Linked DNA regions of Homo sapiens: region 2 is reported to be linked to region 1. The links are microRNA targets in miRTarBase. Many come from high-throughput screens and were not tested one by one. Region 1 holds a microRNA gene; the other region holds the end of a gene's coding sequence.
The links. Region 1 holds the annotated microRNA hsa-miR-4697-5p (AGGGGGCGCAGUCACUGACGUG, at 1,497-1,518, shown strand). A microRNA usually pairs through its seed, bases 2 to 8, with sites in the 3' UTR of a target mRNA and lowers its output. Matches are read on the target gene's strand: a 7mer-m8 pairs with bases 2 to 8, a 7mer-A1 pairs with bases 2 to 7 and ends in A, and an 8mer does both.

Region 2: the mRNA of PAX2 is a reported target of hsa-miR-4697-5p. Seed matches in the 3' UTR shown: 8mer at 490-497 and 7mer-m8 at 2,045-2,051.

What each region holds. Positions count from the first base shown.
Region 1 is chr11:133,895,922-133,900,068 of GRCh38, reverse strand. It overlaps MIR4697 (microRNA 4697), which reads left to right and starts at 1,488; the gene lies at 1,488-1,565. IGSF9B (immunoglobulin superfamily member 9B) reads left to right here. Exons shown (of 20, transcript NM_001277285.4): 20 at 1-3,631. RefSeq lists an enhancer at 3,830-4,147.
Region 2 is chr10:100,827,356-100,831,355 of GRCh38, forward strand. It overlaps PAX2 (paired box 2), which reads left to right. Exons shown (of 10, transcript NM_000278.5): 10 at 188-2,589. The coding sequence ends at 264. Among named protein-coding and RNA genes, the nearest start is that of SLF2, 84 kb to the right of the region's middle.

The sequences.
Region 1 (4,147 bases):
GGACCTATGAGGCCCTGCCATTCAGTCAGGCACTGTCCTTGGGTCCTCAAATTAACTGCTGAGAACACTCCCCACTTTCCGAGGACGCTGATGGGAAATGGGCTCTGTCCATGCAGCTGGAAGGATCCAGTGCTGGTGCCACTGTCAGTGGCACCATCCTTGCCTTGAATGATCTTTCTTGCAGGCTCCTGCAGCTGAGTGTTTCTTGTAAGATTTTTCAGGGGGATTGGGCAAGAAGAAGAGGTGCAAATTCTGTTCCCTTCCTACCTTGAAGCCTTCCCAGACCACCACGGTCTCTGCACAAGGGAGGCTCCCATTACTGTTCTGTTGGCTTCTAGACCCACCATCCCCTCTCTTTCTGTGGACTCTGCCCGACTTCTGGCCACATGCAACCAGCAGAGTAAACTGCTCCAACACCTCGGGCATGTCCTAGGGCTTGCCCTCCCACCAGGGCCAGCCCAAGATTAGGTCCTCAGCAGCATCAAGGTCTGGGAGAGCCACTGGCCCACATGTCACCATTCTATTCCTCAGCCTCCAACAGGACTCTTCATTTTGGGGAGGGAAAGGGAAGATGGGGCCATAGCCCCTACCTTGAAATTGTACAGTGTGGAGGGGATGTTAGTGCCTACCTGTGACCTTTCTGCTCCACTGCTCAGCAAGATGAGGTAAGGTTGGGTGTCAGAGGGGACCTCCAGCTTCTCTGAAGAGCCAGCCCTTAAGGCACTTGGAGCAAAGGTCATTGAGATCAGCTTTATGTGGAGTAAGGAGGAGGCCTGGGAACCGCTTGTGGCATCAGTTGGGGCGACAGGTGGATGAGTGTGCTCTGATGGAGCTTTTACGGCCCACAGCCACTGCCAGGAGCCTGAGCTCTTCCCCATGCTTGGGACACGTTCCTTGGTCCCCACAGCAGAATGGACATTGAATTTTGGTGCTTTTCCCTTTGGTAGAAGGTGGAGGTATCTGAGGAGTTGTTTCTGTCTTGCTACCTCTGTCTACTATATAGAGCAAGAGTCGGGAATAGGGAGATGTGTGAGAATCACTCTCCCATGGATCAGTGTGGGCCCTGTCCCTCTTCCCCACTGTCACCAACCAGCAGCTTGGGGAAAAGGCTCTGTCGTGGATTTTTGCTGCCTGCTTCCCGCTTCCACTCTTCTTGGCGGTAGATGTTCATGGTGATCCACTTTGGGCGGTCTGAAAGTAGGAGGTGGGGGAAGAGGCAAGCCTGCACACACACTTCCTGTCCACAGGGGGTTGCCTGTGGCATTGGAGGGTGGAGTCTCAGAGTCCAGGGACTGGGAGGAAGGTACTTGATGGGATGGTCTTGATTCTGGAACTTTAGACTGAGGTGTTAGAAAGGGGAATTGTTGGCTAGGGGAGAAGAGCAGTTTAACGCTCCACTTGCTAAGTCGTCTGTATCAGTGTCAGAAGGTCTTGACCTCCCATTCAGATTTAATTTCCTAACTGCCAGGTGTGGGGCTGGGGATAGAGGGCCCAGAAGGGGGCGCAGTCACTGACGTGAAGGGACCACATCCCGCTTCATGTCAGTGACTCCTGCCCCTTGGTCTTCAGTGTTTTTCTCTTCCCCAGGAGGGACTTTGATCATGCAGGATAGAATTCTCCCATCGCACACCTGGGGGCAAGTTTTAGATGAGCTTCTTTCCTCCATTTCACCTGGTGGTCTGAGGACACACAGAGGGTGGGGGTGAGCAGGCAGTGTGGGTGGGGAGGGGCTACCTCCCCCAGACCCCTTACAAACTCTGTACCTCTCGGTGCGCGGCAGCCTCTTGCTGTAGTTCTTCTTTTCTGGATATGACTGTCAGTTTCGTCATGAGATTTCTTGCTCTCATTTCGAACTCTTTCTTTCTTCCACTTTCTTTGGGGGCGACCCCCGATCCATGCCAGGTCTTCCTGTGAAGACCGTTCCAACCTCGTTTCCATTTCTTGAATGTTGAGTATTACAACATCACTGCGCTAGGGTGCTTCATGGTGCTGTTCTCGAAGAGGCCAGTTGGGCTGAATCTCCTTCCTCCCACTGGCTCCTGATATCTTGCTGTATTTTGTCTTCTTTCTGATTTTTCCCTAGGGGTTTGGGGTGGGTGACTTAGGGGCGGCTTTTGTGTTCTCCCTCTCTCTCTCTTTCTTTTCTGTATGTATGTATGGACTGGTTAAAGTGAGTTTGGGCAGCTGACTTTATGGTATGGGTTGGCTGACTTTTGTTCAACATTAAAGACAAACCAACAAATTGTACAGCTGCACACAGAACACCTTTGAGTGTGAACTTGAATGGCAACTAGAGGCTTACTTTTTGAACTTCAGGTATGTAACTCAAAAGTAAATAAAACCACTATTTTTTCAGTAAGCTTTTTTTTCTTCTAAAAGATGACTTAGAAATCAAACTATAAGAACATGAAATCGGTGCTGTACCAAAGCCTTATATGAACATATTCTACACTCTGTATAACCTGTCTGTGAGGAGCTCCCTGCTCTATCACCCTCTTCTCAAAAGCCTGGGAATGCCAGCGCGTGCCAAGCCTGGGGCTGGGTCTTGGGGACCTGTGGGCCAAGGGCACCCTGGGAAGTAAAAGATGACGGTGAGGATGGGACACCCTTCTGCTGCCTGAGCAGACTGCAAGGAAACCAGATGTGTGTGTGTGCGCGCACCTGCATATATATGTGTGCATACCTGTGCGTGTGTGTGCGTGTGCGTGTGTGCACGCAAGAGAGTGAGAGCGGGAGAGAGCTCACAGGTGCACAGTGTCATGGTGAATGTACTAAGTACGAGCTTGAAGGGAGGCCCAGGTTGGCTCTGGGAGTGGGGCGGTGTGGGAATGAAGGGGGGATGCTCTCTCCCCTGTTTTCTGCCTCCTTCCCTTCTCCGTCAGGGAAGGGAGGTGTATTGGAAACAGCTACACTCTCAATCAGGTGCTTTTTTTCCCTCAAAATCTCCAAACTCAAAGCATTTATAAGGGGCCCTTCCAATGGGCAGGCACCCCCAGCCACCAAATCACAGACTTCCAAGAGTAGGAGGAACTGTCTCCTCCCGAACCCTTCCTTGCTTTCCTGGGGAAGAGGGTTCTTCCTGCAGGGACCCTGGGCATCCTGCTGCTGGGCCTGGGCCTATAGACTGCCCTGCCCCTTCTTCCCAAACACTGAGAAGACCCCGCTGGAGATGACCCCAAAGCCACGCCTGCTCTACGGCCCTAAGCAATAGACGCCTGCCCTGGCTGCTGATGATGGTGATCCCTTTGTCCTTTGACTTGGCAGTCAAAAATGGAGTGACACCCCAGACTCAGTCAGGAAGAGAACCTGCAGCCTGCCTCAGCTCAGGCTACCACGCCAGGCTCCACTCGCTGGTATTTCCAGGCTTGCTAAGTACTAACCAACTCATCCCCAGTAACACTGCATGTTCATATCCTGAATTACAAATCAAAATGAGCAAACACGTGCATAAGCAAATGAGAAAAAAGAAGGCACACATCAAATGATGAGATGTGCAGCCAGTGCAGGTACCCCGGGAGTGTTGCAAGTTAAACTGATGAAAAGACGTTTAGTATTTAATTGCTCCTCATGTAACATTACTCTGCTTCAGAAATGTTTTGTATTTTGATATAAATAAACATTTGCTAAAAAAGTTCATTTTCTAATTTTTTTGTGTACCTAGGGAGTGCTTCCTGATGTTGTCTCACCCCTGGCCCTAGGTCTCCCTAATCAACCCACTTTAAACTCACGACTCAACATGATTCTGAAATGGTTTGCGGCTGGGAGATGAAGAGGTTGCCTTTCGTTCATTGAACACACATGTACTGAGGGTATACTGTGTGTGAGTCACTGTTTAGTTCACTTGGGGTGCACAAGTGAATAGGCCAGACAAGGCTCCTGCTCCTGGAGGGCTTTCATTCTAGTGATAGGGACAGAGAATGAGTCATTATTGCACTAAGAAAATGACATCGAATGGCATAAGGCAAAAAAAAGGAGCAGGGTAAGGGGCAGCTGACGTACAGAAGGAAGGAGGGGGCTGCGGTTTAGAGCGCTATTTTAGAGTGCTCAGAGAGGGTCTCAGCGGGAGGCAGCACTGGAGCAAAAGCAGAAAGGGGGTGGCTTGTCTGGTGAATGCACACACTTCTCTTTTACTTTGTAGGCTCTTTGC
Region 2 (4,000 bases), not on the chromosome of region 1:
GTCCCTCTCATGCCCCGTGAACGCAACTATTCTCCGGGGCAACTGGCTCCACTGCCCAGCCAAGGTCTCCCAGTCCGGATCCCGCTGGACCCCAGCCAGGGGAGGTCTTTTCTGTGCTTTTCTTTCCTTTTTTGTTCTCCTGTTTGTCCTCTCACCCAGCCCATTCTTCTCCTGTGTTAACTTCCAGGTTCCCCTTATTATTATAGTGCCGCCCCCCGGGGCTCCGCCCCTGCCGCTGCTGCCGCTGCCTATGACCGCCACTAGTTACCGCGGGGACCACATCAAGCTTCAGGCCGACAGCTTCGGCCTCCACATCGTCCCCGTCTGACCCCACCCCGGAGGGAGGGAGGACCGACGCGACGCGATGCCTCCCGGCCACCGCCCCAGCCTCACCCCATCCCACGACCCCCGCAACCCTTCACATCACCCCCCTCGAAGGTCGGACAGGACGGGTGGAGCCGTGGGCGGGACCCTCAGGCCCGGGCCCGCCGCCCCCAGCCCCGCCTGCCGCCCCTCCCCGCCTGCCTGGACTGCGCGGCGCCGTGAGGGGGATTCGGCCCAGCTCGTCCCGGCCTCCACCAAGCCAGCCCCGAAGCCCGCCAGCCACCCTGCCGGACTCGGGCGCGACCTGCTGGCGCGCGCCGGATGTTTCTGTGACACACAATCAGCGCGGACCGCAGCGCGGCCCAGCCCCGGGCACCCGCCTCGGACGCTCGGGCGCCAGGAGGCTTCGCTGGAGGGGCTGGGCCAAGGAGATTAAGAAGAAAACGACTTTCTGCAGGAGGAAGAGCCCGCTGCCGAATCCCTGGGAAAAATTCTTTTCCCCCAGTGCCAGCCGGACTGCCCTCGCCTTCCGGGTGTGCCCTGTCCCAGAAGATGGAATGGGGGTGTGGGGGTCCGGCTCTAGGAACGGGCTTTGGGGGCGTCAGGTCTTTCCAAGGTTGGGACCCAAGGATCGGGGGGCCCAGCAGCCCGCACCGATCGAGCCGGACTCTCGGCTCTTCACTGCTCCTCCTGGCCTGCCTAGTTCCCCAGGGCCCGGCACCTCCTGCTGCGAGACCCGGCTCTCAGCCCTGCCTTGCCCCTACCTCAGCGTCTCTTCCACCTGCTGGCCTCCCAGTTTCCCCTCCTGCCAGTCCTTCGCCTGTCCCTTGACGCCCTGCATCCTCCTCCCTGACTCGCAGCCCCATCGGACGCTCTCCCGGGACCGCCGCAGGACCAGTTTCCATAGACTGCGGACTGGGGTCTTCCTCCAGCAGTTACTTGATGCCCCCTCCCCCGACACAGACTCTCAATCTGCCGGTGGTAAGAACCGGTTCTGAGCTGGCGTCTGAGCTGCTGCGGGGTGGAAGTGGGGGGCTGCCCACTCCACTCCTCCCATCCCCTCCCAGCCTCCTCCTCCGGCAGGAACTGAACAGAACCACAAAAAGTCTACATTTATTTAATATGATGGTCTTTGCAAAAAGGAACAAAACAACACAAAAGCCCACCAGGCTGCTGCTTTGTGGAAAGACGGTGTGTGTCGTGTGAAGGCGAAACCCGGTGTACATAACCCCTCCCCCTCCGCCCCGCCCCGCCCGGCCCCGTAGAGTCCCTGTCGCCCGCCGGCCCTGCCTGTAGATACGCCCCGCTGTCTGTGCTGTGAGAGTCGCCGCTCGCTGGGGGGGAAGGGGGGGACACAGCTACACGCCCATTAAAGCACAGCACGTCCTGGGGGAGGGGGGCATTTTTTATGTTACAAAAAAAAATTACGAAAGAAAAGAAATCTCTATGCAAAATGACGAACATGGTCCTGTGGACTCCTCTGGCCTGTTTTGTTGGCTCTTTCTCTGTAATTCCGTGTTTTCGCTTTTTCCTCCCTGCCCCTCTCTCCCTCTGCCCCTCTCTCCTCTCCGCTTCTCTCCCCCTCTGTCTCTGTCTCTCTCCGTCTCTGTCGCTCTTGTCTGTCTGTCTCTGCTCTTTCCTCGGCCTCTCTCCCCAGACCTGGCCCGGCCGCCCTGTCTCCGCAGGCTAGATCCGAGGTGGCAGCTCCAGCCCCCGGGCTCGCCCCCTCGCGGGCGTGCCCCGCGCGCCCCGGGCGGCCGAAGGCCGGGCCGCCCCGTCCCGCCCCGTAGTTGCTCTTTCGGTAGTGGCGATGCGCCCTGCATGTCTCCTCACCCGTGGATCGTGACGACTCGAAATAACAGAAACAAAGTCAATAAAGTGAAAATAAATAAAAATCCTTGAACAAATCCGAAAAGGCTTGGAGTCCTCGCCCAGATCTCTCTCCCCTGCGAGCCCTTTTTATTTGAGAAGGAAAAAGAGAAAAGAGAATCGTTTAAGGGAACCCGGCGCCCAGCCAGGCTCCAGTGGCCCGAACGGGGCGGCGAGGGCGGCGAGGGCGCCGAGGTCCGGCCCATCCCAGTCCTGTGGGGCTGGCCGGGCAGAGACCCCGGACCCAGGCCCAGGCCTAACCTGCTAAATGTCCCCGGACGGTTCTGGTCTCCTCGGCCACTTTCAGTGCGTCGGTTCGTTTTGATTCTTTTTCTTTTGTGCACATAAGAAATAAATAATAATAATAAATAAAGAATAAAATTTTGTATGTCACTCCCCATGGCTCCAAGTTTGTCTCTCCCTGTCTCTGAGATGGGCCTCCCCTCCATTGGTCGATCCCCAAAAGCCCCTTCAATGATCCTCCCAACTACACTCCCGCTGCCACCTCCAACTCCTTTGCCGAGACCCCCTTGGCGGCAGCTGAACCACGGCGAAGGCCGAGACTAGCCTGCCCTTTAGTAGCCACCCTCCCCCACGCACCCCGGCCCTGGGGACAGGAAGTTCTTACTCTCCGAAACTTCAGAATAACTCCTAGTTAGGCGCCTATACTAGGCCAACTCTGTGGTCCTACCAGTACACCCGCACCCAGATTTAGGGTGCTGGCTCTCAGAACCCGAAGTCTGAGGCCTTCTCCACGTGGGTGGAGGGGTGGTCGTCTGTCCTATCTCCTCCCTCCGTTCCCTATCCAGTGCAGTTGCGCGTGGGCGCAGCAGCAATTTTATCCCCGAAGTCTGCAATGAAACGCGAAGACCGCAGACGCTTGCCGCAAGTTTCCTCGCTCTGCGTTTACTTCTGGGCCCGAAGAATGCCCCGCAGAGGCCCTAGGAGCTGGTTCATGGGACTTCACGCGCCTCCAGTGTCTTGCGGAGCCCCAGCCCCAGCAAGCAGCGGCTGAAATTGGTGCGCCTTGTGCTGTGGTCTGGGTGTGTCCCGGAGAGGGCGCGCAGGCGCCTATGTCTGTCGCGGGGCGGTCGGCGGGTTCCTGCATAGGTATGGCTTTCTGTTCATCTATGTGTTCGTCTGTATGTCCCTGGATGGGTCTGGGGGTGTGGTAGTAGGAGAATTGTTTTTTTAGCCATCCTTGCTGTTCTTGTGTCCAGGTGTCCAGTGAAAGATCTGTATGTCTCCACCTCTCTGTTCTCTGTTTAGGAGAGGTTGCAGGGGGAAGGGGGATGTGGTGACTGTCCAGGATTGTTCTGCTGCATCAGAGATACTTGGGAGGATCGCCTTTCCATCCCTTCAGCAGCTTCCCAGCTCTGGTCCTCCCACACTCTTGTCAACACAAAGGGCCCAGCTTCCACCTGGAAACTTTCCTTCTGTGCCCCTGGGACACCTTCCCAGCCCAGCTTCTACCACAGCTTCCTCCCACTTGAAAGGCTCTTGAATCTCTGAGCTGCCAGGGATGCAAGCAGGACATTGGGGCAGACTAAGAAGTGACCTTCCCCTTTGGCTTGGGACAGTGTCTCCTAGACACCTCCTTCCCATCAGAATCCCAGAGACCTTTCTTTCAAGTCAATCTGCCCAGGCTCACCCATATCACGGCACCCTCTAGGGGATGTACAGGACCCCAACAAATCAGCAAACCTTCAATAAAGTCCATTCCTTTCCCCCTCCCTCTGCACCTGTGTCTCCCGATTCTTCATCTCAGCAAATGGCAGTTGCACCCTTCACCCTGCCTGGTGTTGGC